Linked DNA regions of Homo sapiens. The protein of the gene in region 1 interacts with the protein of each later gene in a pairwise test. Each region holds a gene or a part of one and is shown in the gene's direction. Other genes may lie near its edges.

What was found.
Region 2: the proteins of SLC9A7 (region 1) and SCAMP2 interact in binary tests that used the Homo sapiens proteins (3 or more experiments, as listed by UniProt).

What each region holds. Positions count from the first base shown.
Region 1 is NC_000023.11:46,752,854-46,769,222, reverse strand, and holds the start of SLC9A7 (sodium/hydrogen exchanger 7), read left to right. Parts: upstream 1-10,104; 5' UTR 10,105-10,193; coding exon 10,194-10,518; intron 10,519-16,369. UniProt on the Homo sapiens protein: Golgi Na(+), K(+)/(H+) antiporter. Mediates the electoneutral influx of Na(+) or K(+) in exchange for H(+). May contribute to the regulation of Golgi apparatus volume and pH.
Region 2 is NC_000015.10:74,841,066-74,856,255, reverse strand, and holds the end of SCAMP2 (secretory carrier-associated membrane protein 2), read left to right. Parts: intron 1-1,606; coding exon 1,607-1,675; intron 1,676-2,136; coding exon 2,137-2,235; intron 2,236-2,759; coding exon of another isoform or gene 2,760-2,888; intron 2,889-4,069; coding exon 4,070-4,187; intron 4,188-4,774; coding exon 4,775-4,903; intron 4,904-5,582; coding exon 5,583-5,742; intron 5,743-7,554; coding exon 7,555-7,656; intron 7,657-10,662; coding exon 10,663-10,783; intron 10,784-11,038; coding exon 11,039-11,173; 3' UTR 11,174-12,526; downstream 12,527-15,190. Other genes in the region: serine/threonine-protein kinase ULK3, read left to right, coding at 13,583-13,717, 13,836-13,976, 14,061-14,181, 14,747-14,851. UniProt on the Homo sapiens protein: Functions in post-Golgi recycling pathways. Acts as a recycling carrier to the cell surface.

The sequences.
Region 1 (16,369 bases):
CATGTTTACTTTATAGGTGTGGCGGTGGCTCACGCCTGTAATCCCAGCACTTTGGGTGGCCAAGATGGGTGGATCACTTGAGCCCAGGAGCTCGAGACCAGCCTGACCAACATGGCAAGACCCCGTCTCCACTAAAAATACAAAAAGAAAAAAAAATTGGCCAGGCGTGGTGACGCACGCCTGTAGTCCCAGTCACTAGGGAGGTTGAGGCAGGAGAATACCTTGAACCCAGGAGGGGAGGTTGCAGTGAGCCGAGATCGTGCCACTGTACTCCAGCCTGGGTGACAGAAGACTCTGTCTAAAAAAAAAAGAGTAAACATGAGCTATTAGGAGAAAATATAGGAAACATCCCAGATCCAGATGAAGGAGGCTTCTTGGAGTAGGTAGCATCTGAATTGGGCTTTGAACAACTAGCAGCAGCTGCCAGGTCAAAATGATTGGTAAGGCAAGAGGTGGAGCATAGGCACAGCCCAAAGGTGTAAGGTATCTTGATGCATTTAGGGAAGAGTGAGACGGAGGGGAGGTGGCAGGGGGTGAATCACAAATGTATTATTAGTCAGGATAGGCTACTTTACACTGTGGTGACAACCGTGAAGTAAAATAAAAATTATCTCCCAGACTACATGTCACACAGGCTTTTCCACCCTATAATTTACCATCTCAGCGTGAGGCTTTAGGACTCACTGCAGCAGGTGGAGAGAACACATGCATCTGCTCTTAAATACTTTTGCCCAGAAATGACATTCACCACTTCTACTCTCATTTCGTTGGCCAAAGCAAGTCATAAAGTCACCTCAAACGTCAAAGAGGTGAAAAATGCAATCAATGCAATCCATCTGTTTTGCAAGAAGGGAATCAGAAATATTAGGAACCACCAGCAAAGTCTACCATAGGCCCTGTGTACCGCGCTTTGAAATTGTGATTTTATCTTCAAGTGCAGGAACAAATGCAAGCAGAGGCCAAACAAACACAAGGAATTCAGGGTCAGCTTCACAACTGGTTGCCCTCTGACTCTATACTTCAAGTCTCCAAAGGCTGAGTATCAGTCAGCGTCCACAGGAAAACAGGCCACTACATGTTCCCACAGAGGAGGTTAAGATAAGGAATTGGTTACATAGGTAATGCAGAAATGAGATAGCAAAAAGGCAACTGTGAGAGAACCCAGAGATAATAACTACAAGAAGCAGCTACTATCCCTAAACTTGGAAAAACAACAGGGAAGAGGTAGGATTACCAGAACCTGGCGGTACAGAGCAAAGGCCATGCAGAATAGATATGAGGTCCTCTTAGGATGCCTGGTTGCTGCTGCTGAGGTGCTGCCAATGGGAGGCACTTGTGGGAGAGTGGAAGGCAGCCAGAGGGGAGAAGCTTCCTTCCTGGTTCTTTTTTTTTTTTTTTCCTTGAGACTGAGTCTCCCTCTGTCACCAAGGCTGGAGTACAGTGGCGCAACCTTGGCTCACTGCAACCTCTGCCTCCTGAGTTCAAGTGATTCTCCTCCCTCAGCCTCCTGAGTAGCTGAGAATACAGATGCCGCCAACACACCCGGCTAATTTTCCTATTTTTAGTAGAGATGAGGTTTCACCATGTAGGCCAGGCTGGTCTCAAACTCCTGACCTCAAGTGATCCGTTCGCCTCGGCCTCCCAAAGTGTTGGGATTACAGGCGTGAGCCACCACGCCCCGCCAATGCTAGTGTTTATGCCCATATATTTCATAGTATCCTGTGGGTGTGCCTGAATTTAAGGTTTCAGTTTTCCTCATCTGCCACATTTCAGGGTAACTGAACCCAGGACATAGCTCTTGGGGACTTCTTGAGGCCTTAACCACCGTCTTAAACTAATATAAAGTTGTAGCATGTCCAAGGGTAAGCAGAGGATTTGTTAACACATGACAGAGAGAAATTATTTAAGTTAACTTACAGCAATATTTATTTTTCTTGTACAATTATTTGAATTTAACACATGTACAGATTCATACGACCATCACTACAATCAGAATATAGAATGGTTCCATCATCCCCAAACCTCCCTTGTGTTATCCCTTTATAGTTATACGCTTCCCCTCCCACTTAGCCCCAGACACTACTGATCCATTCTCTGTAACTATACTTTTATCATTTCAAGAATGTCATAAAATGGAATAATATAGTGTGCAACCTTTTGAGACTCACTTCCACTCAGCATAATGCCTTTGATATTCATCCAAATTATTAGTATATCAATTGTTCATTCATTTTTATTGCTGAATGGTATTCCATTGTATGAACATACAACAGTTTTTTATTCATTCACCCACTGAAGGACATTTGGGTTGTTTTCAGTTTTTGGCTATTATAAATAAAGCTGCTAATAACATCCATGTAAAAAGCTGGGCGCAGTGACTCACACCTGTAATCCCAGCACTTTGGGAAGCCGAGGCGGGTGGATCACTTGAGGTCGGGAGTTCAAGATCAGCCTGGCCAACATGGTGAAACCCTGTCTCTACTAAAAATACAAAAATTAGCTGGGCATGGTAGCACATGCCTATAATTCCAGGTACTTGGGAGGCTGAGGCATAAGAATTGCTTGAACCTGGGAGGCGGAAGGTGCAGTGAGCCAAGATTGTGCCACTGCACTCCAGCCTGGGTGACAGAGCGAGACTCTGTCTCAAAACAACAACAAAAAAATCCATGTGCAGGTTTTTGGATGAACACATTTTCACTTCCCTTGGATATATACATATATACCTAGGAGTGAGATTGCTTGTTCTTATGGATAAATGCATGTTAACTTTATAAGAAACTGCCAAACTCTCTTCCAGTGTGGTTTACCATTTTGCATTCCCACCAGCAATGTAAGAGAGTTCCAGGGGCTCTTCGTTCTCATCTCCAATTGGTGTTGTCAGTATTTTTTATTTAGTCATTCTATTTCTAATATTCTAAGTCAATCTAATAGGTGGCAATCATGGTATTAATTTTTATTTCCCTAATGGCTAATGGTGTTAAACATCTCTTCATGTAATGATTTCTCATCCACATACCGTCTTTTGTAAAGTGTTAGTTTAAACCTTCTGCCCATTTTTCAACTGGGTTGTTTTCTTATTAAGTTTGGAGAATTTCTTATGTACTATGGATATAAGTCCTTTGTTGAATATGTTTTGTAAATATTTTCTCCCACTCTGTAGCTTGTCTTTTCATTACTTTAAAAGTGTCTTTTGCAGAGCAAAAACTTTTAATTTTGATGCAGTCCAATTATCAATTTTTTCATATAAGGATTGTGCTTTTGGTGTCATATCTAGGCACTCTTTGCTTAATCCAAGATCAGGAAGGTGTTCTTATGTTTTTTTGTAACTGTTTCACAGTTTTGTATGTTACATTTAAATCTATAATCTACATAAAATTCATTTTTGTACAAGGTATAAGATTTAGCTCAAGGTTCATTCTTTTTGTGTATGGATGCCCAATAATTCCAAACAATTCATTGAAAAGAACGTACCTTGTCCATTTAATTGCTTTTGCACTTTTGTGAAAAATCAATTTTGTATGTAGACCTATTTCTGGACTCTAATTTTGTCCCATTGATGTATATATCTATTCCTTCACCAATGCTACCCTGCCTTAATTATACTTTATTACTTTACATAGTAGCATTACAGTACATCTTAAATTGGATAGTGTGAGGCCTCCAATTTTATTCTTCTTTTTCAAAATTGTTTTGGCTAGTCTGTTACTTTGACTTTCCTATTAATTTTATATTTCACATGGCTATATTCACCAAACATTTTGCTGGGATTTTTATGGAAATTTTATTAAATCTGTATATCAATTTGGAGAGATTTGACATCTTTGCTTAGTCTTTCAATCCATGAACATGGCATGTCTCTTCATTTATTCAGGTCTTCTTTGATTTCTTTCATCAACATTTTATAGATTTTAGCATATAGATCCTGGACATGTTTTGTTAAAAATTTATACCTAAATATTTTTCTTTTATGCTATTGTGAATGATACATTTTAAAGATTTTTTGGCCAGGTGCAGTGGCTTACACCTATAAACCCAGCACTTTGGGAGGCCGAGGCAGGCGGATCAGGTGAGGTCAGGAGTTCGAGATCAGCTTGGCCAGCACAGCAAAACCTTGTCTCTACTAAAAATACAAAAATTAGCCAGGTGTGGTGGTGGGTGCCTGTAATCCCAGCTTGGGAGGCTGAGGCAGGAGAATCACTTGAACCCTGGAGGCGGAGGTTGCAGTGAACCGAGATCGCACCACTGCACTGCAGCCTAGGTGACAGAGCCAGACTCCACCAAAAAAAAAAAAAAATCTCCAGTTGCACATAGCCTGTATATAGAAATATGATTGGTTTTTGTGTGCTGACCTTGCACCTTGAGACCTTGCTAAACTCGCTTATTTGGTTCTAGGATTTTGTAGATTTCATGGGATTTTTCTAAGTAGATGATCATATTATCTATGAATAGGAGAATTTTTCTAATATCCTTTGAGAATTTCTCTTTTTTCCTCCCTTTTCTTTTTGTTCCCTCTGTTTTTAGTTCCTCTGTTTCCCCAGCATTCCATTAAAATTTACATATTGTGATTTTTGCTATATACGTATGCCTTTTATTTCGTTTTTCTGTCTTAGTGCACTGACTTGGAGTTCCAATACAATGTTGACTAAGAGTGGTGATAGTGGACTTCCTTGCCTTTTCCCGACCTTGGGGGGAAAGAATTCAGTCTTTTAAGAATAATGCTAGATATTCTGTGCGGTTTTTTTTTTTGGGGGGGGCGGGTATCTGCTCTTTATCAGGTCAAAGAAGTTCCCTTTTATTCCTATTTTGCTGAAAGCTATCATGAATGGATGTTGAATTTTGTCAGTGCTTTTTTCCGCATCAGTGAATATGATCAGGCAGCTTTTCTTCTTTAGACAGTAAATATGGTGGATTGCATTGAGTGATTTTCTCATGTTGAACAAGCCTTGTAATCCTAGGATAAATACCACTTGGTCATGGTGTACACTTCTTTTTATACATTGTTAGATTCAATTTACTAATATTTTGTTAAGAATTTTTATGTCTAAGTTCATGAGAGATATTGGTATGTAGCTTTCTTTTCTTCAACTGTCTGACTCTCTAGAAGAGACTGTACAGTATTGGTGTTATTTCTTCACACGGAAATCTATTTTTGTTGGATGTATTATTTTTGGTTAACAGTTCTTTCAGCACATTAAAAATGCTGTGCATGTCTTTATGACCTTCTTGGTTTCTGATGAGAAATCCGTAGTCATCTGAATTGTTGTTACCCTGTATGTAATATTTCATTTTTATCTTTCTGCTTTAAACATATTTTTTTGTTTTTCTTTTCAGCAGTTTGAATATAATGTGTCTGTGCTTTGATTCTTTGGGCTTATCCTGCTTGGGTTTTGCTGAGGTTCTTCAATCTGCAGGCTTGTGTCTTTTGCTTTATCTGGAATGTTTTCAGTTATTATATTTTCACATCTTTTTTTCTGTACCACACTGTTTCTCTTCTCCTTCTGTAACTCTAAAGACACAAATGTTAGATATTTTATTATCTCCTATAGGTCTTTGTGGCTCTATTTATTTTTCAGTTTTTCCTCTCTGCTATTCAGGTTGGATAATTTCTATTGATCTATTTTCATATTTACTGACTCTTTCATCTCTATTCTGCTATTGCATCCATCCAATTTTAAAATTCCAGCTATTGTATTCTTCACTTATAAAATTTTTTTTTTTTTTTTTGAGATGGAGTGTCACTCTGTCACCCAGGCTGGAGCGCAGTGGTGCGATCTCAGTTCACTGCAAACTCCACCTCCCAGGTTCAAGTTATTCTCCTGCCTCAGCCTCCCAGTAGCTGGGATTACAGGCACATGCCACCATGCCCAGTGAATTTCTGTATTTTTAGTAGAGATGGGGTTTCACCATGTTGGCCAGGCTGGTCTGGAACTCCTGACCTTGTGATCTACCCGCTTTGGCTTCCCAAAGTGCTGGGATTACAGGTGTGAGCCACTGTGCCCAGCCTAAAATTTCAATTTGGTTCTTCTTTTATCTTTTACTCCTGTGCTGAGCCTTTTATCCTTACATTCATTTCAAGATTATTTGTCCTTACTTGTTGGAGCATCATTATAATAGCTGCTTTAAAGTCTTTTTCAGATAATTCCAACATTGGTGTCACCTCAGCAGTGGTGTCTGTTGTTTGCCTTTTCCCACCCAAGTTAAGATTTTCATGGTTCTTCAGGTATTGAATAATTTTGGGTTGTATCCTGGACATTTTGAATATTATGTTATAGGACTTTGTATCTTGTTTTAATACTATGGGGAAATATTCATATTTTTGTTTTAGTTTGTAATAGACATGCTTGGGTTTAGATCACAAGTTCTGACATGCCTTTTGTGGATAGTGGCTCCAAAGTCAATTCAGTTTTCAAAAGTTTGTAATGCTATTCAGATCTGTCCTACATGTGTTTTATCCAGTGGCTAGTCTAGGGCTTGGGTGGTGGTCTGCCTCTTAGTTCAGTTATCACAGTCTTTGGTATGCTGTTTAGGATCAGATCCATGTGCAGGTTGGGGTGAACCTAGGAGTTCATAAAAACTTTATGAGGACCTTTCCCAAGGTCCTCTCCTCTCTACTGTCTCCTTGGTACTTTGTAATGCCTTGGAGTTCCCCTTTTAATCAATTGGCAAGAAATCTAGACTATTTAATTTATTTAAAGACAGGGTCTCGCTCTGTCGCCCAGGCTGGAGTACAGTGGTGTGATCATAGCTCACTGTAGCCTCGAACTCCTGAGCTCAAGTGAGCCTCCCACCTTAGCCTCTTGAGTAGCCAAGACTACAGGCAAGCACTACAGTGCCCAGCTAATTTTATTTTTAAATGTTTCATAGAGACAGGGTCTTGCTACATTGCCCAGGCTGTTCTCCAACTCCTGGCCTCAACAAATCCACTCACCTCAGCCTCCCAAAATGTTGGGATTACAGGGGTGAGCCACTGTGCCTGTCCAGAAATCTGGGTCTTTATTTAATCCTCTCTGTTATGTATTTCCTGAAACTTTGCCCATGTCTTGGGCCAAGCATCAGGACAGAGAGAGTGAAAAAATATATATCATTGAGGTTTTGGCCCCACTGTCTTGGGACCAGAGCTACTTCAAACAGAGAGGAAGGTTCTCCCCTCCCTTAGCATTTTTTGGGTGCTTGAAGGTATTGCTGTCTCCATTGTCACTGTTGACTGAGGTGCCACAGTGGGATTGCTTATTGGCTAAAATGTAAGAGAATGGAGAAAAGAAAAAAAATGGCACATTTCTCCTACTTTCTCTGAATATTAGGAGACCAATTTTCTGCTTTTCCTGGAGCTCTCTCTGTCCATGTTGATGCTCCCTTCCGGGTGTTAAGCTGCCTTGAGTCCAGTCTAGTGGAGACTGGAGGAAAAAAATGGTAAACTCACCGCCAGTTCAGTTTTACTTCAAATTCTGTTGTTTTTCCTCAGTTTATGTGGTACAATTTACTTTCCAGAGTCCTCAAATAGTTGCTGCATGCATTCTGTTCACATTTTATAGCTGTATTCAGTAGCAGGTAATGGGTTTAGTGTGATTATTCTGTGTTAACTGAAATCAGAACTCCTGTATTATATAGGTTAGTTTTCACACATAAATATGTAGAGATAATGGAGTGTTTTCTTTGGTGTGTATTTGTGAATGGTTGGGACTAGTCTTTTCATACTCTACCCAAGGGAACTACTTTACATAATAAATACTCTTCTGGTTATCTATTGCTGTGGAAGAAACCACCCTCAAACTTAGTAGCTTAAAATAACACCAATCATTTTATTATGCTACAGTTGCAGATGTTGGTTAGGTTCAGCGACATGGTTCTTGCTTGGGGCCTCTCATATGTCTACAGTAAGATGGTGGCTGGGAATGAATTGATTTGAAGACTCATTCATTCACATGTGTGGCATTTGGGCTGGGAACACTCAAAAAGTTGGGTCTCCTGTGGCATCTACCTCTATTGCTACATGGTCTCTCTACATGGTTTCTTCAGTATGTCAGCTTCCAGGTAGCTAGATTTCTTTGTCTGTTTGTTTGTTTTTTTGTTTTTGGAGGCAGGGTCTCACTCTGTCACTCAGGCTGGAGTGCAGTGGTGCAATCTTGGCTCACTGCAACCTCTGCCTCCCAGGTTCAAGTGATTCTCGTGCCACCACCTCCCAAGTAGCTGGGATTACAGGCACACACCACCACACCCGGCTAATTTTTGTATTTTTAGTGGAGACAGGGTTTTGCCATGTTGGTCAGGCTGGTCTTGAACTCCTGACCTCAGGTGATCCGCCCGCCTTGGCCTCCCAAAGTGCTGGGATTACAGGCGTGAGCCACCGTGCCCAGCCTAGCTAGAGTGGAAAGTGACAGAATGAAACAGGCAGGAGCTAGATTACCTTTTATGACCTAGCCTCACAAATCACATAATCTCCATTACCACATTATATTCTTTGAGGGAGTCACAAAGGTCCACTGAGGTTCAAGGGGAGGGAACATAGATGCCCCTTCTTGATGGGGGATGGTAAGGTTCTGGGATTGGAAATATGATTGTGGCCATCTTTTTAAAAAATACAATCCGCCACAAATACTAAGAAGTCTGTACTTTTAAGGTAGCTCCTGAGTTGCCCTTTTCTAAAGAGAGAAATTCTGTCCTTGAGTACTGGGCACCCAAAGGGGCATAATATTATGACCAACACAGTGCCCATCCAGGTTTTAAGTATTTGCAATTTTATTGGAAACCTGTGTGGAACTTCAAGGTATACGGATGTTTGCAGGGGCTGAGTGACTGCCTAGAGGAGTTGGGAAAGGGGCTAGCTAAAATGTAGATGAAGAGATTTCCCTGCTTTAAAGAAACCACTAAACAGCTTTGGCAGAGTGCTCACCTACAGGGGAACCAGGAAGGCTGCAGTACTCCAAAGAGTTTTCTTACCTAATGCTACCTCTACCCTATTATTTCATTTGGTTAAGCATCACCTTCTTCAATGAATCCTCTTAAAAATGCAAACTCCCCTGGGAGCGAAAACATGGGCAGTTTTGGTAGAGATTTCAGAGTGGTTCAATAAACACATGAGTACAGTGCTAAGCACTGGGAACTCAGTGATTAATCTGATCTTGTTTCTTCCTTGACCAGAGGAGCAAGGTGGATTGAAGATTCTAGTTTTCCTGAGAATTTGTTCCAAGAGGCTTCATCCTTCAGAGTCCACGCCATAATTTTGTTCAGAGCTGGGTTTGGTCTTAAGAGTCATTAAAAGACTCTCTGAGCTACCAGGTGAGCAACATAAAAGAAAGGGTCATCAGGGTAACCCCCACCCCCCACCACCACCTTAGGACCAGCTACTGCTCATCTACCAGGAATGGCAAGCGTTCAGTTCCTTCTGGTTCAACCCTATTCCCCAAGGGGATTAGTAGCACAGCGCAGACGAAGTCTATTCCCTCAAGTGAGGAAGGAGATACTTCAATGCCCTCCCCCGATTCCAACTCCTTATCAGTCCTCACATTTGAGTCTGATGAGAACAGAGGTTTGAATGAAACCTAGCAGATTCTGGGGCTGGAAGGGCAACCTGAGAGATGAGGAAAGAGAGGTGTAGGGGCTAACGTGGCTTCGGGGCTGCTCGGTTCACTGACAGCCCCCACTTTACTGGGCCCAGGGCGGCTGCACACTGGCCTGAGATTAAACACTTCGCCGTGGCGCCAGAGACGGGACTCGAGACCGCAAGGCTAGTCACTCCAAGCCGATGCTCCCGCTAGGCGCCGGCGACCTCTGGCGTCCCCTTTCGGAAGTGCGGCGGCGGCTGCCCATGAACTGGCCCCACGACCCCAGACTGCCTGGGCAGGTGCGCCAGGACGGGGTGAGAAGCGCAGAGAGGCAAGCAGCCGGCGGCCGGCCCGCAGACCCGAGGGCAACACCCGGCCCCGCCTGGGTGGCTCGGTTGGCCCGCGGGGCGGTGCGGCGTGGCGCGGCCGGGGGACGAACAGGTGCGCGGGCGGGGGGCGGTGCTTGGGGATCCTGCGCACTGCGCGCGCCCCTCCCCCGCGCGGCCCCGGGCGCAGCCCCGGCCCGGCGCGAGTAGGAGGAGGAGCTGCAGCGGCCACGGCCACTCCGGCAGGTCCGCGGTGCTGCCAGAACCCGCCGACGGCGCGGGCTGCTGGTCCCCGCTCGGAGGAGGCGCGGGGGGCCCCGGGACCATGGAGCCTGGTGACGCGGCGCGCCCTGGCTCGGGTCGGGCTACCGGGGCGCCGCCGCCGCGGCTGCTGCTGCTGCCGCTGCTGCTGGGTTGGGGGCTGCGAGTCGCGGCCGCGGCCTCGGCCTCCTCCTCTGGGGCGGCGGCGGAGGACAGCAGCGCCATGGAGGAGCTCGCTACTGAGAAGGAGGCGGAGGAGAGCCACCGGCAAGACAGCGTGAGCCTGCTCACCTTCATCCTGCTGCTCACGCTCACCATCCTCACCATCTGGCTCTTCAAGCACCGCCGGGTGCGCTTTCTGCACGAGACCGGGCTGGCCATGATCTATGGTGAGCACCCCTGTTACACCCCCCGCCCTCCACACCCCTCGGCCGCCGCGCTCCTCCTGGCGCCGCGCGGTGCTCCCCCTTCACTTGCCAACGTGTTCCGTTTCTTTTACGTTTCCCGCTGCGACGGTGTTGGTTCCCAAGGTCAACTGTCTGCATTTTCTGGCTCTCTGCTACCGTTAAAAACAATTCCACCCCTATTCCACGTTTCTGCATTGGGAACCCAGGAAAATGAAAGGGACAGAGGTGGTCCGGTTCCGTCTGCCCCGTTCGGTCTCTGTTGCAAACCTCTTACCCACCACCTCCCGCTCCAGTTGAGCTCGATAGGGTGTGTGTGCCTGCGTGGTGGCTGGAGGTGGGTGGCTTCCCAGGTGACTGCATCACCTCAGGGGACAGGCCACAGTAGGGAGTGGGGACGAAGTCTGAAAGTGTCTTTGCTTGGGTATGGGTTAGTGGGGCCTCTTGGACGCCACATCCATGGTCAGCCTGGGTGGGTACCCACTCCTGAGGTCCACATTCCCAGGTCTCTTAATGATAAAGTCAGAGCATGAAGTGTGGTGAAAGGTGAGCAGTGGTCCAGGACCCAGAGTGGGTGGCACCACCATGTCAGGCCTGGACGAGGAGACAGGCACGCCTCCTGCTCTTATGTCCCGAGTGGAAAGTTATACCCAGTTACTTGCTTTCTCAAACGAAGAGGAGCTTTTGTATTCCTAAGACGGTAACAGGGAGTGAGTTTGAGATACATTTCCGAATGTATGAAGGGGAAAAGTCGTGGTTTTAATTCCGGAGTCAGCCATCTTTTGTTGTTAGGGGTGGGCTGATGCTACCATCCTTTTCTAGATTTAATGGTACACAGTGTGTTACATGCACAGTGGTCAGTACAAATCTCCCTTTATTACATGGATGTCAGCCATAATCTGAGTCATCCCTCTTCCTCTTCTGTGCCCCCTGCCTCCCCCCTCGCCCTGCCCATGACTCCAAAGTGGAGTCAGGTATTCTCTTTTTGAATGTAATTCAGTGGTGTTAAAGCCCCTGAATTGGCATCCTCACACGAAATAGACGAGCCACTTCATGATTGTTCCCAACGGGGAAAATTTTATTTTATCACATATACTGAGGGATTTCTTTATTCAGTTTCCATCCAGGTGCCCTGATAGAGAATGGAAAGCAGAAACCTTAACCTTTAATGTGAAAATTACCCTTGGTTCTGGGCCTTGCTTCTCATGTTTCTTGATTAGTTGTTGACAGCCGGGGCTCATGGCCACCAGGCCCTCGCAGCCAAACCGTGTAAGGGGCAAGCGCTGTTAAGAGCCCTCCAGTTTTGATGAAGTAGTGACCTACACAGATCTTGAAACAGGACCAGGTCTAAAACCGAGTTTGGTGATTGCGAATTATAGGTCTCAACACAGACTTTGGCCTCCATCCCTGACCGTTGTTGAGCTCTGTGGTTTGTGTCAGTTGGTGATAAATGACTGATGCCAGGCCTGCAGGTAAGCTGGGAGGTTTCCTGAGAAGACAGACAGGGGGGAATTGAAGCACGTGGTCATTGCAGGTGATTGACTCCAAGCCATGATGCAAATGAAAATTGCCTTTATATAGATAACCGTGAAAATATTTTTATTTAATAGGCCCTAGACCCAGTTTCTTAAAGGACAATGTGAAATAGGAGGTAGATTTGTCAGATTCGTAAACACATGCTCAAGGGATGGAAAATAAATGGGGATTTGAAAATATATTTTCTGGAGAGTACTCCGTGTTCTGAGGAGTTCAATCACCTTTATCTTAAGGCTTAAAGACAACAGTGGAATTTTCCTTTGCTGATACGTACTTTTAAAACTCACCTCCATCTTTCAGCCATTTGGTTGTGCTACAGTGTACTGTTTTATTTTGTGAACAATCAAGTTACAAATCTAGTGTAACTGATGGCTGTTCAGAAAAGGCAATATCATCTCAGCATTCCTGTGTAATTTTGTTCTATATCTTTGAGTATTAGTGTTTCTTTAAATGTATAAAGAAATTTAGTTTGTCAATATGTGATGTCTCAGGTTATGCCAAATATTAATATTTTAAGGACTGTCTGTAATTGTGAGAAAACATTTCTTCTTTCTCTCAGGTATGTTTGGTCTTCTACTGCAAGGTCCCCCTAATCTGAATTCTAATGTCATGTGATTAGCTAATTATTCATAGTATACTGAAGACTATTGGGATGGGGATTTTAAACTGATCTTAAAATTCAGTTTGCAAATCTTTTAAAAAATTGTCTGCATTTAAGATGTACAACATGATGTTTTGATAAACACAATGAAATGATTACTACTGTCAAGCAAATCTTTGAACACAAGTAAATCCAGTAAAGATTTTTCAAGACTTCTCTTTTTTAATAGTAAAAAATAAAATTTGATTTCTCTATATCAATAGAGGAAGTGAGTAATTGTCCTCTTGGCTCTGAATAAGGAACGACAAAAAGACCTAAGGAAACATTTTTAAAGTATCCACTGTGTGCTGGGAACCCAACTTAATTTCTGGAGGCAAACAATTTAACTTTTAAATGTTTATGAATGAAAGAGTTCAACTGTGAATTTCAAAACTCTTTATTTTGAGAAAAAGTTTTAAAATGTAATTTCTGCCACCTTTTTGTGTTTAAGTGACACTTTAATCTGAGAAGAACAGCGTTTACATTTAAGATAAATTTATATATATATAAATTTATATATTTGTTGGTATAGTCGTAAAATATCTCTGGAAGGACATGCAATAGATGAGTAACATTGGTTTCCTTGGGGGAGAGGAACTAGATGGCTGTGAAATAGGAGTGGGAGGGAGAGGTCACCATATAACCTTGTATGCTTCTTGGTCTTGTAATAGCTTTTTTTTTTTTTTTTTTCCAAGACGGAGTCTCACTCTGTCGCCCAGGCTTGAATGCAGTAGCGCAATCTCGGCTCACTGCAAACTCCACCTCCCGGATTCAAGCAATTCTTCATCTCAGCCTCCTGAGTAGCTGGGATTACAGGCGCCCGCCACCATGCCCGGCTAAATTTTGTATTTTTAGTAGAGATTGGGTTTCACCATCTTGGCCAGGCTGGTCTTGAACTCCTGACCTCCACCCACCTCAGCCTCCCAAAGTGCTGGGATTACAGGTGTGAGCCACCGCACCCGGCTGTAATAGCATTTTAACGTGCTCCTCAAATCACTCAATTTGACGCCTACTTCTCCCTATTTAAATCACATTATGTTATCAATTTTCTTCATGACTTTTCAATTCTTAATTGTGCCCTTGGAGCTTTTCTGAGCCCTGTGTCTGGGATGGAGATAAAATGGGGAAAGGGGAAGAGATTTCTCTCTCTCTCTCCCTCCCTCCCTCCCTCTCTCACCCTCTCTTTCCCACTCGCTCTCTCCCTCTTTTTCCTTCCCTTTATTCCATTATCCTCAGAGAGTAGTCAATGTTACATTAGCAGTGATGTGCACAAATAGACCCCATAATAAGTGCTTGCTTGGATGCAGAGGACCTAAGGAAAATAAAAGACACACTGTGAATGCTTAACGTTTAAACAGAAAGGAACTCCCCCACCCACCAAAGGACACTTATAAGCATTCCTCCCTGACAGGCCAGGGCAGCTACAAGGGAAGGTAGCTACAGACCTAACTCCCCAGGAAGGTTGAAAGCAGCCCCCAGACCCCACCACTGGAGCTGCAAGGCAGCGGGGCCAGGCACTTGCCTGCCACCAGTCTAACCTGTTTTGTCAGGCCAGGGAGCTCCCAGCTGTCTGTCTCTGTTATGTGATTAAGTGCCATCCTAAAGTTACTGGGCCCTACATGTCTTTGCAGCAGAAATAGAAAGTGTTTAGGGCAGGGAAAGTTGGTATAAACAGACTGTGCCAGTTCATTGTGGTTCTCTCTCAGATGTACGGTAGTTCCACTTCCCCCATAATGTTTTTGTGACAACTGATATGGATCCAAAATAATCTGACTCTGCCATGCTAACCCACCACCTGCTTCTCGCTTCCTCCTCCTCCACCACCCCATCACCTTTCCAAAAATATGTTGATCAGCCCCTCTAGGTTCTATGGGTTGTGGGCTCACTGTTGCTGTGGTGGAGCTGGATTGCTAAGCACAGCCTGAGAGTGGGCTCATAGGCAGAGTCTGAAGGGGAAAAAGATGACTCTTTGCGGTAACATGAAATTAACATTTGAACCTGTAAGCAAACATTTTGGAACCATCTCCTTCCTGGTTAATCAGGAGTCCCCCCTTTTAAGAGCCCCTCACTTTGGCCCCAGTTGGGAGCAGCTTCTGTATGGTCTCACTTTGGTACCAGATAACCCTGGGTTCAAATGCTGGCCCTGTTGCTTATAAAACTGTATAGCATTGGATAAACTCTCTGAGCCTTAGCTTCCTCTTTTGGAAAATGGAGATTATGTTACCTCACAGAATTGCTGTGTTATTGAGATATTCTAAAGGGTCAAGTGCAGTGTCTGACACTTAAGCACTTGGTAAATATTAGTTCCCATTCTCATTTTAGGCTTTGTGATTCTTTGGCAGGCTTTACTACTTGAGGTTTGTTCAGTAGTGGACTGTTGTAATTTTAAAATGCATTAGGACACAGTTAGTGGAAGTGAGGAAAATTGTATATTTTGGGGTGAGCTTTTGGTTAATACCTAGAAAAAAATTTACAACACACCTACCCTTTTAAAATTTTATTTATTATTATTATTATTATTATTATTTGAGACAGAGTCTCACTCTGTCGCCCAGGCTGGAGTGCAGTGGTGCGATCTCTGCTCACTGCAAGCTCCGCCTCCTGGGTTCATGCCATTCTCCTGCCTCAGCCTCCAGAGTAGCTGGGACTACAGGCACCCGCCACCATGCCCGGCTAATTCCTTTTTGTATTTTTAGTAGAGACGGGGTTTCACCATGTTAGCCAGGATGGTCTCAGTCTCCTGACCTTGTGATCCGCCCGCCTCAGCCTCCCAAAATGCTGGGATTACAGGCATGAGCCACCGTGCCCGGCCCACACCTACTCTTTTATTCAGCATTTTCAATTCTTGGACTTTCAGAAATCTATCAGAAATACTTGTGCTAGCATGTTGCAATATATAGACAGCAATATTTGTTGCAGTGGACATAAGTTGCAGAACTCATCAGATGAGACTGGTTAAATTGTAGCACATTCCCATTAAGGAATACTATGCAGCGATAAAAAGAGGTGTTTTGAGATGTCCTTTTAAGGCTACTGTCCACACATAATGTTGTGGAAAAAAAGCAAGGCACAGAACATCATGTATAGTATTATTCTATTTGATCTTTCAATAACTATATACTGTATATACACAAACATGATGTATGTAATTTATATATGATATATGTGCTTTTATGGAAGGATATGCAAGCTTTATCCTTTGGGAGCAGGATGAGTTGTTGGGAGAGAGAGAGGGGAGGTGGTACTTTTCCTTTATATTATTCTAAATGGCCTGAACTTTCTTTAATACTGACACATTACTTTTGCAATTTAAACATTATTTAAAAATGAAGCAAATAACTTATGTAGCAAAAAAATGCTTTATAAACAGAAGATTGTACTATGTGGTTACATAGCATTTTCCTTGGATTGTCGAAATGTTCTTTGTAAAGCGGTCTCTGGATATAAAGAATACTTTTACTTATTATTTGAAAGTTATAAATGGAAGTAAAATGTTTGTATCTTAAAAAATAGAAAAATGACATTTACTAAAAGCATTTCTTAGAATATTAAAAAGTTAACCTTTGTGGAACGCTGTAATTAGAAAAATCACAATTTTTCAACCTCTAGTGATAGTTTATTTAGACAAGGGTTTTCAATGAATTCCAGAATCCTAGGTGA
Region 2 (15,190 bases), on another chromosome or scaffold:
CTGCAGAGGCTTCCAGTGGAGGTGAGGCTGGGCCTGAAGTTTGGGAGCATCTGGTTTAATAATTAGGGGTGTGGGGTGAGGTGTGGAACCCAAGCGGTGTCTCCACAGGCAGGAACAGCCCTGAATTTGGCCACCCTCAGGGCTGTTCCTCATGGAGCCCAGGCATGGCTGTGAAGCTGGACCTGAGCCCTGCATCTGTTACTAGGAAGGGGAGGGTGTGGAGGAGCTCTTCTTGGGGCAGGGCAGGGTGAAGACAACTGTTCCAGGCCAGCAGGGGCACAGTAAAGAGGATGGCAGAGCCCCATGCAGAGATCAGATGGGAAAGGGAGACAAGGTTGTGTTCTGAGGACATTCTTGGATTTTATGAAAAGACTTTAAAAAACCCCCGAAACCCAGAAACATTTTCTTGAATTTTCACCTCAGCTCATCATATCTCTGCTCTTAGCAAGTGTGCCCGATTTAATAAAATCAGTACTGGCAGCCAGCAGCATGTTTTTGTTCTAGAAACTTAGACTACTTTTTTTTTTTTTTTTTTTTTTGAGATGGAGTTTTGCTCTTGTTGCCCAGGCTGGAGAGCAATGGCACAATCTGGGCTCACTGCAACCTCTGCCTCCCGGGTTCAAGTGATTCTCCTGCCTCAGTCTCCGGAGTAGCTGGGATTACAGGCATGCGCCACCACACCTGGCTAATTTTATATTTTTAGTAGAGACGGGGTTTCTCCATGTTGGTCAGGCTGGTCTTGAGCTCCCGACCTCAGGTGATCCACCCGCCTCAGCCTCCCAAAGTGCTGGGATTACAGGCATGAGCTACTGCACCCGGCTACCTTAGACTGTCTTTTACAAAATAAGAGGAATGGCCAGGCATGGTGGCTCACGCCTGTAATCCCAGCACTTCGGGAGGCCGAGACAGGCAGATCACGAGGTCAAGAGATTGAGACCATCCTGGCCAACATGGTGAAACCCTGTCTCTACTAAAAATACAAAAATTAGCCGGGTATGGTGGCGGCCGCCTGTAGTCCCAGCTACTCAGGAGGCTGAGGCAGGAGAATCGCTTCAACCCAGGAGGCGAAGGTTGCAGTGAGCCAAGATTGCGCCACTGCACTCCAGCCTGGGTGACAGAGCAAGACTCTGTCTCGAAAAAATAAAAAAATATAAAAAAAGAGGAATAAATGAATAATAAGTAAAACAGTACAGAAAGGTTATAAAGTCAATAGTAAGTCTCTACCCTCACCACCCCATTCACTTGCCCCTCAGCACCCCACCCCTCAAAAAAAAAAAAAAACCCACTCCCTAGAGGTAAATACTATGAACCATTTTGAATCTGTATAGGGCACCAACAGGAGCCTGTGTGGTGTGTACTCTCAAGCTTCTGGGTAAAGCTTGCTCTGGGTCTCTTCTGGGCTGAACCTTTTCCAGGAAGGGGGAAGGGAGAAGGGACCGCAGCTGTGGTGTGGCAGAGGCAGGCACAGGACCCTTCCAGAGAGGCTTCTCAGGGTCCCGGGAGGGTGATCAGCTGCCCTGCTTCAGTCAGGCGTCACCGGCTCGCCTGCCGGCCCCTGGCCCGGATTTTCTCCACTGTGTCTAAGGGCTTTTTTTCACCTTCTCAGGATCCCTCTGTGACCCAGCTGACCAACGCCCCGCAGGGCGGCCTGGCGGAATTCAACCCCTTCTCAGAGGTTGGTGAGCAGGCCCTCTTTCCAAGTCCCATGGCCCTCTAGGGTGGTGCTGGGGTGTCCGGGGCAGGGATCCTTGGCAAGGACAGAAGCAGCTCTGAGAAGCGGCAGTCCTCAAAGGGACAGTCCTAACATGAACCCGGGAGGCAGGGTAAGGATGGCAAAGCCACCAAACGCTCTGTAAAATTCTCCCCTTGGGATCTGTGACCGGGGCCCCTCCCCAAGGAGGTCAGGGCAGTGCCCAAGTGTGCTGGACCCAGCGAGCCCAGGGGTGCCGGGTTAGGGATCAGATGGCCTGAACCTGAGGCTTGTTGGCTGGGAAGCCACAGGGGAAGGCCCAGTGCAGGCCCCGAGGGAGTCCCCTCACAGGCAGGGGCACATCACTCATCCTGCTGTGGGTTTGCCCCCTCGTCACCAGCTAATGGAGTCCCACTCAATTCTGTCTTTTGATTTGTTCCATGTAGACAAATGCAGCGACAACAGTTCCTGTCACCCAACTCCCTGGGTCCTCACAGCCAGCGGTTCTCCAGCCATCAGTGGAACCAACCCAGCCGACCCCCCAGGTAGTGCTGACAAAGAACTCTGGCCTTTTCTCTCCAGTGAGGGAATCATCCAGACCAGTAGCTGAGCCCTGAGGCTGGGGGCAAGCAGAGAGCTTTCAGCCTTGGCCCCCTAAGGGCCCTCTTGCTAATTTGTTCGGAGCTGGTCACCTACAAGTAGAGGGGCTGCTCTGCCAATTAATATCCTTACTCCCTCCATCCCACCCACCACCACCACTGAGAAATAAGCTCTACTCACCAGGCCGGGCTCCTCGGTGCCTCCAGAGAGGGCATTTGTCCCTGTTGTACCCCTCCAGGTCCTCCTCGGGCCTTTGGCTTGTTCTCTCTTCCTTGGGGCCCAGAATCTCTCTCTTTTTTTTAACTTCATTAATTCTCACCTTCCTTCCTGTCTTCCTTTGTCCCTTCACCAAATACTGTGAATCTTGCCTGCTTTGTGCCTGGTGCTCCACTGCGCCGCCTCACTGCCCTCCCGCTGCACCCCTCGCTGCCCCTATGAGCGTGACCCATGGTGGAGTTGTGTGTTGCAGCTCCTGCTTAGACAGGCCAGCAAGTTCCCGCCTGCCCAATTCCTGGCAGTGAGCGAGCTCTCAGAGAGGCAGATGCTCCTAGGAGGAGAAAGTATTCTCAGAGACAGCTACATGCGAAAGCTTCCGAAGGTAGGCCTAATGTAGATGAGCAGGAGGAAGGGCAGGGCACCCGGAGCCTGCCCCACACCCCTCCCAGGCCCCAGAGCCCTGTGGAGGTGAGGCAGGCCTTACATGCGGAGTTGCCTTTCTGTGCAGCTGGGTGGTGGGCTGTAGGGAGCTGGGTCCTTCTCAGCTGGCGTCACAGACTTGGAGGAGGTCAAGACCCCCAGCGTGGCACAGCGGGGTCAGTTCTGCTCCTGCTTCCGCCCCCAGTGCCTGAAACTTGGCTCTCCACGTCAGCCTTAGGTCTTTGAAGAGCTTTTGGAGAGGTTGGTGTGTGTATACATGTGTGTGTGTACACATGTGCCTGGTTTGTCATCCTGTGAAATGACCAGTTTGAGATCTCTCCCTAAAAAGGACTGTAGTCTCATCCTTCAGGAGGAACCTGGCCCAAATGGCAGCAGCTGCCAGCAGGTGCAGGGCCCCGGGGCCAGGTCTGTTCAGCCTCACATACAGTCAGTCCCTTACTGTTACTCAGAGGCTCTACCCCGCCTGGAGAGGAGATAAGTGTGGACTCTGCATGCCACTAAAGCCAGGCAGGGCAGGGCCACACCTAAGGGGCTGTCCTGGGGTGTAGCCAATTGCAGTTTAGGGGGACCTCAGGAGGCAGCTCCTGGGGGCAGGCCATGGGGCAGGGTGCTTGTACAGATCCTGAGGCTCAGGCACACGCCATCTGCCTTCACGTGTCTCCCCTTTCCACTCACTGTTAGCAGGCTTGCACTGTTTTCCTTCTCACACATCCACCAGGCTCTTCAAATGAGGCTTGGGTCTGTGGGTTTCTTATTATAGTTTAGTTTCTTGTGAGGTCTTTTTCCCAAAGGTCACAATCACTGAGCGCTGCCTTGACCCAGTATGGGGAAGAGGTGGAGAAGCCAATGGGGGTAGTTTTCCCAACTCAAGCTTAGGGATGAGGGGAGAGGACAGCTTAGTCATGGCCAAGGGGTCAGGAAGGTGTGGGGGCAGTGGAAGACAGGTTGGCCTCTCTAAGGTGGTCTCTGGTACCTAAGACACTCTGTGGGGCGGGGACTGCTTCTGGGACTCCTTGATGGCTGTCCCTGCCTGGGGCAAGGCCTCTCTGCCTGCCTACCCAGGCTGACACTGTTTCTGTTTGTTGTGTCTGGCTGTCCCTGTACCTCCCCTGTTCTCTCCAGGCCGTGGTGTCTGCAGCCCAGGCAGGCCTGCTCCGGCAGCAGGAAGAACTGGACAGGAAAGCTGCCGAGCTGGAACGCAAGGAGCGGGAGCTGCAGAACACTGTAGCCAACTTGCATGGTAAGGGAGGCTGCTGGGGCCTGGGGCTGCCCTGCCTGGCATAGAAGAGTGTCCTGAAACCTGTGCGGAGGGCCTCCCAGCATTCACCCTGAGCTGCCTTAGAGTTTTGTGGGGCTCTTCTCATCACAGGATGCTGGTCCTGGGAAGAGCAGTAAGTTGCAAGTCAGGAGACCTGCAGTGTAGTTGTAATGGCTGTAGATTACTTCTGCACTCCTTCCTAGCTCTCAAATTCCTTGATTCTTTGATAGCATAGGGGCTTTGGTCCCACAATTCCTTGCTAATGATGATGAACTGAGTTCTCACACTTATGGGCTGCTTGTTAATAAAAATAATCACTTAGGCCATTTAGCTGTCTGTATTTCCCAGTGCATTTGGGGTCTTTTATCTCCATGTGAGCTTGTTGGTATCTCTTTGGGTTCCATTATCCTGTTCTGTCCCACTCCATGCTCCATGCAGACTCCAAGCCCCGCTTGCTGGAGCCCCTCTGGGAACCCTGGTTTGGCCCATACACTATGCTGGCGTGCATGCACCTTGATGCCCCTTCTGAGGCTGGGCCCTTACCTCGTCACTCTTTTTGCCCTACCCAGTGAGACAGAACAACTGGCCCCCTCTGCCCTCGTGGTGCCCTGTGAAGCCCTGCTTCTATCAGGATTTCTCCACAGAGATCCCTGCCGACTACCAGCGGATATGCAAGATGCTCTACTATCTGTGGATGTGTGAGTCCCACTCCTGCCTTCCAAGCGCAAGGGCGAATTGGGTGTGACTTGAGAGCCCCATCTTGGTCCTGGCTGCTCCTCCCTGGTATACAGGCTTTCAGCAGACTCCAGCCTTCCTCAGTGCCTGGGCTGGGTTGGGGAGATGCCTCTGCCCACAGGCTGCCCCCTGTCTGGAAACCTCCTTGAAAGGGGCAGTCCAGACCACCGATCAGGGAGGGTGGGACTAACTAGAGGCTTCCAAGTTCCTTCAGAGCTCACTGCACTAAAAGGCCCTCCTTAGGTGAAGGCCTTCCCTGCCCACAGGCCTGTGAACTCTGAGGGGTGAGGAAGGAGACTCCCCCTGCAGCTCCATCAGGGGCCATCCAGGGCCAGGGAAAAGCATTGCTAAGAGAAAGACTTCCTTCCCCAAGGACCAGCCCTGGGTCTGCATCCTCCCTCCACACCCCTCAGATACCCGGGCTGTCCCATCACCTCTCAGGAACGTAGTTTGATCCCTGGTTTTGAGGTCCCAGAAAACCAGGATATGGGAACTATCCCTGCCTAGGTACAGAGCGGGCTCCTCTGTTTCAGCAGCTGCCTTCGCAGCATGAACCTCACCTCTCCTAGGGAGTGGCTGCCACATTGGAGCCCCTCAGCCACTGTGGCACAAGTCATAACTCTGTCCTGTCCCCTTCCCCAGTGCATTCAGTGACTCTGTTTCTGAACCTGCTTGCCTGCCTGGCCTGGTTCTCGGGCAACAGCTCCAAGGGAGTGGACTTTGGCCTCTCCATCCTGTGGTTTCTGATCTTCACTCCCTGTGCCTTCCTTTGTTGGTACCGACCCATCTATAAGGCCTTTAGGTGAGTGAGGCCGGGGCAAGGGGTGAGACTTTATGGCTGGCATCCCAGGTAGCAGGCTAAGGGCTATAGGCCCTGGGACCCCATCTGAGTCTTAGAGCAGAATAGAATGTAGGGAAATCCACTTTCCCTACATTCTGTTCCTCTGTTCCCACCCAGAGCAGAGATTGGGGGCCCCGTTCCTCAGTTTCTGTACCTGAGGTCTGCTCTGGGCCCTGTCCTTGGACCAGGCACAGGAGACCTAGAGAAGGGACCTCCCATCCCACTGCTCCCAGTCTGGCTGATGCCGTTACTGGGAAGAGGGAGGGGACGCTCTTTGGGAACTCCCTTCTGAGGCTCTAAGGTGTGCTTCTCTGGTAGTATCAGATGAGTGCTCTCCAGGGCTCTTTCTCCATGACTATTGATGCTTCCCAATAAAGACTGCCAACACCTAAGCTAGATACTGGGAACATAGCTGGATACACCTTACAGACCCCCAGGGGTTCTGGAATTGTACCTCAGGGTTTATGCTTTCAGGGCTGGGAGCCCAGCAGGCCCTGGGAAGAGGGATTAGGGTAGTGGCTGAACCATCCCTGTACCACTGGAGGCCCTGAACCCTCACTGTGATCTAGCCCTCAAGGACACAGAGATGGAAGTCCTCAGCTCGTGAGAGAGTTTTGTCTGGTGTCCCCTGTTTCCCAAATATTTTTTTCTTCCAGTCAGATGTACAGGTTTTGTTTTTTTCTCATTGTTCTTTGTTACCACGTATCCTCAAGTTCTATTGTTTTTGTTTTGAGAGGGAGTCTCGCTCTGTCACCCAGGCTGGAGTGCAATGATGCGATCTCGGCTCACTGCAACCTCCTCCTCCTGGGTTCAAATGATTCTCCTGCCTCAGCCTCCGGAGTAGCTGGGCTTACAGGCACACACAATCACACCTGGCTAATTTTTGTATTTTTAGTAGCGATGGGGTTTCCCCATGTTGGCCAGGCTGGTCTTGAACTTGTGACCTCAAGTGATCCACCTGTCTCGGCCTCCCAAAGTGCTGGGATTACGAGTGTGAACCACCGTGCCCAGCCTGTTTTGTTTTTTTGAGACAGAATCTCAGTCTGTTACCCAGGCTGGAGTGCAATGGCGCAGTCTCGGCTCACTGCAACCTCCGCCTCCCAGGTTCAAGTGAGTCTCCTGTCTCAGCCTCCCAAGTAGCTGGGATTACAGGCGCACACCACCACGCCCAGCTAATTTTTGTGTTTTTAGTAGAGACAGGGTTTTGCCATGTTGGCTAGGCTGGTCTCAAATTCTTGGCCTCATACAGTTTTATTATTAAGAGATTTACTTAGTTTTACTTATTATTAGAGATTTTACTTATTATATAGAGATTTACTTATTATTAAGAGATTGGCTTAGTTTTTCTTGCCTGTTATGAAACGCAAGTACTCCAGGAGATGGAGTGTTAGGTTCTTTGTTTTTTATTTACTTATTTTTCTGAGACAGAGTCTTACTCTGTCACCCAGGCTGGAGTGCAGTGGCGTGATCTTGGCTCACTGCAGGAGTGTTAGGCTCTTTATATTGTCCTTTGGGGGAGCAACTTTATCAGCTCTTTGAGGAAGGGGTCAAGCACTGACCCCTTAAATTGGAAGGCAGTGAAAGGCAAGCTCTTCTTGATTATGGTGGGGGGTGTGTGCGTGTCCTTACGGGTGGTATGGCTGGGCCCCTGGAGCTCTGTCTCTTGCCCATGCTGCCTCCTGGCTCCTAGTGAGGAGGGATGTCACACCAAGTAAGGATGCTGAGGAACACAGCCCAAGCCCTCTTGTGACTTATTTCCCTCTCTCTCCACAGGTCCGACAACTCTTTCAGCTTCTTTGTGTTCTTCTTTGTATTTTTTTGTCAAATAGGGATCTACATCATCCAGTTGGTTGGCATCCCTGGCCTGGGGGACAGGTGAGACCTGGGCATCACAGAGGGAATTAGGCTTTGGATATGGGACTCAGCCTCTCTTGCCCTGTTTTCTAGCTCCCACAGAGCCCCGCCAGTGCCCTGCTTTTCCCATGGCGGGGAGTGGGTGAGTGGGCCAGCTCGGATCTGCTTTGGGCCTTCTCTCCAGTTCTTCATCAGTAGCCACTCACTTTTTTTTTCTCCTTGATACTAAAGGCATCAAAAGACACTCACTATTGGTCAGGTGCAGTGGCTCATGCCTGGAATCCCAGTACTTTGGGAGGCCGAGGCAGGCAGATTGCTCAAGCCCAGGAGTTCGAGACAGCCTAGGAAACACAGGAAGACCTTGTCTCTACCAAAAATTAAAAAAATTAGCCTGTTGCAGTGGCATGCACCTATAGTCCCAGGTACTTGGGAGGCTGAAGCAGGAGGATCACTTGAGCCCAGGAGGTTGAGGCTGCAGTGAGCCATGATTGCACCACTGGACACCAGCCTGGGTGACAGAGTGAGATCCTGTATCAAAAAAAAAAAAAAAAGACACTATCTTCCCTTGCTCTCCACTTTCCAGGGTATTGTGGGTGAACTTGGCTTGACTCTTTAGGCTACCATGACAGTGTCCTGCACTGGATTGCAGCCTCTTCCTTTTCTCCTGCCACACCCTCCTGAAAGCTGATGGATGCCCAGGCCTTTGCAGACTCTGAGCTGCAACTTTTTCCAGATGCCTTGTAACTTAAGGAGACGGTTCCCTCACCTCCCCTGGACAGGCTTCTTCTGGCTGCCCTCTTTGAGCATACGGCTGGTTTGAGTTTCCAGGGTACCTCAGTCCTCAGCTCAAAATTAATCTCAAAAGAAAAGCTGATGGCTGATGTTTTCCTTTCTGCCCCAGTGCACAGGGAGCATTGCAGAAAGGTCAGACTGGCACTTGGCTGACAGCCTGAGCCTGGAAGGGCGGTGCTATTTTGGTCCCCTCCCTCTGGCAGAGCTGGCAAGTCCAGAGCAGTGGGGAGAGAAAGGTTGCCTCCCCTTGCCCTCCAAACAAGTGCACGCTGCCCTCCCACCACCCCTCATGCTTCTTGCCCTGCTGTTGTTAATCTGGTCCCTTTTGACCAGTGACCCAATTTCATTACTCCTTACCTAAGTAAGACCCTGGTAGAAAAGCTGTGATTCATGACTGCCGTTTGCACCTGTACTGGGAATCAGAAGGCTTGAGTTGGCTGGGTGCGGTGGCTCATGCCTGTAATCCCAGCACTTTGGGAGGCCAAGGCGGGTGGATCACCTGAGGTCAGGAAGGAGTTTGAGACCAGCCTGGCCAACATGGCAAAACCTTGTTTCTAGAGAGTACAAAAATTGGCCAGGCGCATTGGTAGGTGCCTATAATCCCAGCTACTTGGGAGGCTGAGGCAGAAGAATCACTTGAACCCGGGAGGTGGAGGTTGCAGTGAGCCGGGATCACACCACTGTTCTCCAGCCTGGGCTACAGAGCAAGACTCAATCTCAAAAAAAAAAAAAAAAAAAAAAATTAACTGACAATAGGTGTATGGGTTTATTTCTGGAATCTCAGTTCTATTCCATTGATCTATTGATCTATATGTCTATGTTTATGCCAGTCCTACACTATTTTAGTGACTGTAGCTTTGTAGTAAGTTTTGATGTCAAGAAATATGAGGATATCCCTTTTACAGATGAGGACATGGGGCTCAGACAGGTGACAGCAAGTTGGCCAGTGATCCTCCTTCACAGAAGGTGGGTCCTCAGGAGTGAGCAGCCACGCTTTCCATACTCCCCACCCCCAAAGCAGCAGAAAAAGGCCCGGCCCAGTGCTACCTTTTTAATTAATTATTTTTTGAGATGGAGTCTCTGTTGCCCAGACTGGAGTGCAGTGCCGCGATCTCTGCTCACTGCAAGCTCCGCCTCCCAGGTTCACGCCATTCTCCTGCCTCAGCCTCCCGAGTAACTGGGACTATGTAGGTGCCTGCCACCATGCCTGGCTCATTTTTTGTATTTTTAGTAGAGATGGGGTTTCACTGTGTTAGCCAGGATGGTCTCGATCTGCTGACCTCGTGATCCGCCCATCTTGGCCTCCCAAAGTGTTGGGATTACGGGCTTGAGCCACTGTGCCCAGCCCTTTTTCTTTTTTCTTTTCTTTTTTTTTTTTTTTTGGAGACAGGGTCTCACTCTGTTGCTCAGGCTGGAGTGCCGTGGCGTGATCACAGCTCACTGCAGCCTTGAACCTCACGGGCTCAAGTGATCCTCCTACCTCAGCATCCCAAGTAGCTGGGAGCATAGGCATGTATGACCACAGCCAGCTAATTTTTTTTTTTTTTGAGTTGGAGTCTCGCCCTGTCACCTAGGCTGGAGTACAATGGCATGATCTCGGCTCACTGCAGCCTGCACCTTCCAGGTTCAAGTGATTCTCCTGCCTCAGTCTCCCGAGTAGCTGGGATTGCAGGCGTGTGCAACCACGCGCAGCTAATTTTTGTATTTTTAGTAGAGCAAGGTTTCTCCATGTTGGCCAGGCTGGTCTCAAACTCCTGACCTCAAGTGATCTGCCTTCCTTGGCCTCCCAAAGTGCTGGGATTACAGGCACGAACCTGGCCTTTTTTTATTTTTTATGGAGACAGGGCCTCCCTCTGTTGCCCAGGTTGGTCTTGAACTCTTGGGCTCAAGCGATCCTCCTGCCTCAGCCTCCCAAAGTGCTGGGATTACAGGTGAGAGCCATAGCACCCAGCCCGGTGCTACTTCTGACTCTGTGAAGGCAGCAACCACATCCTCCCTTTCAGACCTCACATAACCAGAAGATTCCCCTTGTGAATGGGGTAGTGTGGGCCTGTCAGCCTTCACGGAGGTCTGGCCTCACAGGCCAAGGGCTTCTGGCTCACAGGGCTCCCTGTGCTGTGGGGAGATGCCAAGGTGATGGTCAGGACACAGCAGCCACTTGGAGAAGAGCCCCTTATGCTGACTTTTGGAGCCCACTCCCACTTTGCTCCCTCTGGCCTCTTCTTCCCTTTATAGCGGTTGGATTGCAGCCCTGTCTACACTGGATAATCATTCCCTGGCCATATCAGTCATCATGATGGTGGTGGCTGGCTTCTTCACCCTCTGTGCCGTGCTCTCAGTCTTCCTCCTGCAGCGGGTGAGTGGTGTGGGCAGGGCTGACAGCAAATGGGAGGAGGCAGGCAACCGTTTCCTGCCCTTGCCACGAGATGTTTTTCACCACTGCAGTTGGGCATCCTAGGCCCCCAAAGGTCCAGTACCTTTCTCCAGGGATCTGGGTGGGGGGTCAGGCAGTGCCAGGCTTCTGGTGACCCCTTTGGGAGTATAACCTGGATGGCTGGCTTCCTGGTGGGCCCAAAGGACAGGCTTCTCTCACCCCACCCCTCTTCGCCAGGTGCACTCCCTCTACCGACGGACAGGGGCCAGCTTCCAGCAGGCCCAGGAGGAGTTTTCCCAGGGCATCTTCAGCAGCAGAACCTTCCACAGAGCTGCTTCATCTGCTGCCCAAGGAGCCTTCCAGGGGAATTAGTCCTCCTCTCTTCTCTCCCCCTCAGCCTTTCTCTCGCCTGCCTTCTGAGCTGCACTTTCCGTGGGTGCCTTATGTGGTGGTGGTTGTGCCCAGCACAGACCTGGCAGGGTTCTTGCCGTGGCTCTTCCTCCTCCCTCAGCGACCAGCTCTCCCTGGAACGGGAGGGACAGGGAATTTTTTCCCCCTCTATGTACAAAAAAAAACAAAGCTCTCTTTCCTTCTCTGGTGATGGTTTGGTAGGATTCTTTTGTCTCTGGAAGCAGTGGGACTGAAGTTCTCTTCGTCCTGTGCACACACAGACACCCCCACACAGTTGGGATCACAGGCTGACCTGGGCCCATCCCAGCTGGAGCTTTCTGCCAGGGTCCTGGGCCTTGACTCCCCCACCCTGCAGGCCTGGCCTGAATCTGGCTTCTTAGACACAGCCCAGTCCTTCCTGCCTGGGCTGGGAATAAGCCTCTCACAGGTTCTGGTGGACAGATCTGTTCCCCAGGTCACTCCAGTGGTCTCCAGGCTTCCAGAGAAGGCTGGTTGCCTCAAGCTCTTCTCTGCCTCATAAACGGATCCAGAGAAGGCTGGTTGCCTTAAGCTCTTCCCTGCCTCGTGTTCCTGAGAAACGGATTAATAGCCCTTTATCCCCCTGCACCCTCCTGCAGGGGATGGCACTTTGAGCCCTCTGGAGCCCTCCCCTTGCTGAGCCTTACTCTCTTCAGACTTTCTGAATGTACAATGCCGTTGGTTGGGATTTGGGGACTGGAAGGGACCAAGGACACTGACCCCAAGCTGTCCTGCCTAGCGTCCAGCGTCTTCTAGGAGGGTGGGGTCTGCCTGTCCTGGTGTGGTTGGTTTGGCCCTGTTTGCTGTGACTACCCCCCCCCCTCCCCGAACCGAGGGACGGCTGCCTTTGTCTCTGCCTCAGATGCCACCTGCCCCGCCCATGCTCCCCATCAGCAGCATCCAGACTTTCAGGAAGGGCAGGGCCAGCCAGTCCAGAACCGCATCCCTCAGCAGGGACTGATAAGCCATCTCTCGGAGGGCCCCCTAATACCCAGTGGAGTCTGGTTCACACCCTGGGGGGTGTGTCACTGTGATGGGACACGTAGGAGTCCACCCTTAAAACCAGCACCCTGTCCCTCGAGGCTGCCGAGTGGGTGTGTGGACTGGGGTGCCTTCCCACAAAACTAGCCTCCGGCTCTGGGCCCGAGACAGCCGCAGGCCCCAGCCACTGAATGATACTGGCAGCGGCTGGGGTTTTATGAACTCCTTTCTGGTATTTTTTCCCCTCTATGTACAAATGTATATGTTACGTCTCAATTTTTGTGCTTAAGTAAAAATAAAAACATTTTCAGACAACACGGGTCCACATGTCTGGTGGACTTGGGAGGACGGGGCAGCCCACAGGATTAGGGGCTGGGCGCCGCTGCTAAGATTGGAGAGCGGGGACAGTTAAGATGCAATAAATAGGTCAAGGCCCTTCCTCAGAAAAGTGAAAAGCAGCTGGGAGGCCTGGGAAGCCAACGCGGCCTCTTCCAAAGGCGCCTTCTCGTGCCAGTAGCTCTCCTTTCAGAGCTGCGGGTCCTGGGGAGGGGCCCTGGGAGCCTCCCGGACGCCGTCGCCCCCACACACGCCCGCTCCGCCGCCCGCGCCCTCACGTGGGCGATCTCTAGACGCCTCTGCGCCCGCTAGGAGTCCCCGGAGACCACGCCGGCCGTCCTCCGTTGTTAACTTCTAGGCTCGCGGGGCCTCCGTATCCCCACGTGGGCCCTGCAGGAACTGGCGGGGCGCGTGACCCGGCGAGGCCCAGAGACAGGGGAGGGGCGCCGGGAGCCGGGCGGATCCGCGTCCCCGATGCGCGCTGCATTTCCGGCGGGCGGCGCTGGGGGCAGCGTGGAGCCACCCAGTGCTCGGCCCGCCCCGCAACCCGCCGGAACCGCCGCCCGCAGCGAGGAAGCGCCCGCGCGGGCGCAGGCGGCCGGAATGGCGGGGCCCGGCTGGGGTCCCCCGCGCCTGGACGGCTTCATCCTCACCGAGCGCCTGGGCAGCGGCACGTACGCCACGGTGTACAAGGCCTACGCCAAGGTGGGTGCCGGCCGATGGCCCCGTGCCCGCCCGAGCTAGCTCGGCTGGTGCCGGCCGGGGAGACTCTGAGAGGTTAGCGACAGTGTGGGAATAGTTAGGGGCGGGAGGCCGGCCTCGCCCCAGCTGACCCTCGGCGGAGGTTGGAGCCGACTGCCACGCTTAGGTCTTAAAGAGCGCACCTGCACCCACCTGCAGGGTCAGTGGCTGAAGAACAGGCTCAAAACAGGTTACCTGGTGGGCTGGGAGGAGTCTGGGACTGGAGCCAGTTGGGAGGCAGAGTGGGCGGTTCTAGAACCCTGAGTGACATGCCTCTGCCGGGAGCACTCCAGAATGCAAAGAAATGGATCAGCTAGCCGAGGGTTGGAGAAGACCAGGCTGAGGCTGTGTCGGGAAGCCAGGATTCCAGAATCAGCATTCCTCACTGGCCTCACAAGGGAAAGCTGGGAAGCCCGGTGCTGGTGTGCAGTAGGTAGACCCGGGGAGGGGCGGGGTGGGGGAACAGAGGGAACCAGATAGAGCCTTTCCAGTCAGACAAGGGTCCTGGCCCCCTCAAGGCAGAGTCCCCAAATCTCCTGTCTCGCAGAAGGACACTCGTGAAGTGGTAGCCATAAAGTGTGTAGCCAAGAAAAGTCTGAACAAGGCATCGGTGGAGAACCTCCTCACGGAGATTGAGATCCTCAAGGGCATTCGACATCCCCACATTGTGCAGCTGAAAGACTTTCAGGTGTGAGCCTGGGGCGGGGCCGCTGCCAAAGGGAGCTGGAGAAGGGACACTCTCTTCAGGCCGCCTCTCTGCCTCTAAACACAGTGGGACAGTGACAATATCTACCTCATCATGGAGTTTTGCGCAGGGGGCGACCTGTCTCGCTTCATCCATACCCGCAGGATTCTGCCTGAGAAGGTGGCGCGTGTCTTCATGCAGCAATTAGGTAAAGGCCTGTGACACCAGCCTGACACTCTGTCCCTTGTTCTCTGCCCCCCACCATCCCACCCCTCCCCCAGGCTTAGAGCCTTGGCACGCATTGCAGCTGCCTCCTGCACAGCCTGAAATTTTATGGTCCTGTTTATCTCATACACTCAACCCTTGCTCAAGGACGCTGTGGGAGAGATGAGGGGGTAACCCCTCTGTGGGGTGTTCAGGCTTCCATACATAGAACATAATATAAGGACCTTGTAGAACATTCCAGAGTCCTGTAGGTAGGACTCAAGTGCTGTGCCAAGGAAAAGAGCAGGATCTCAAGGGCTGGGGCATCCAGAGAAGCTTCTGAGAGGTGGGGAGACTTGTGAAGGGGCAGAGGGAAGGAGGGTGGGCACTCGGGTGGGGTGGCAAACTCCTAGAAGTGGTGTGATCTTGGTGCTTATATGGAAAACATTAGACCAGCCAGGCAGGAACTGGGGTTGTGCAGGCTTGAGGAGGCAGATGTGAGCCGGGGAGGCGAGAGGCAGGCGGGAATGGGCTCTGAACTGTCTCTCTTCGTGGGTCCTGCTCCTCAGCTAGCGCCCTGCAATTCCTGCATGAACGGAATATCTCTCACCTGGATCTGAAGCCACAGAACATTCTACTGAGCTCCTTGGAGAAGCCCCACCTAAAACTGGCAGGTCTGTGTCTGAAACAGCAGGGATGAGGTTTGGAGAGTGCAGAGGCCTCCCTCTGCCTGGGCTCACTCAGCAGCCCTGGTTCTTATGGAGCCCTCTATAGAGTCCTCAAAGAGTGACAGGCCGTGAAGTCTGGGGTTGGGCCCTGTCATCAAAAGGTGGAAGCTTTCTCAGGCTACCCATGCTCAAGTCCAGCAGCATAATGGGTGGAGTTAGGGCTCAGTCTGTGGCCAGAGTTGGGACTCACTGTGTGTCCAGGTTTAGGGGTCAATCTGGGAACAGTGCCAGGGTTCAGCGTGTGACAAGCATCAGGGATCCCTCTGTGGGCAGGGACAGGACTTG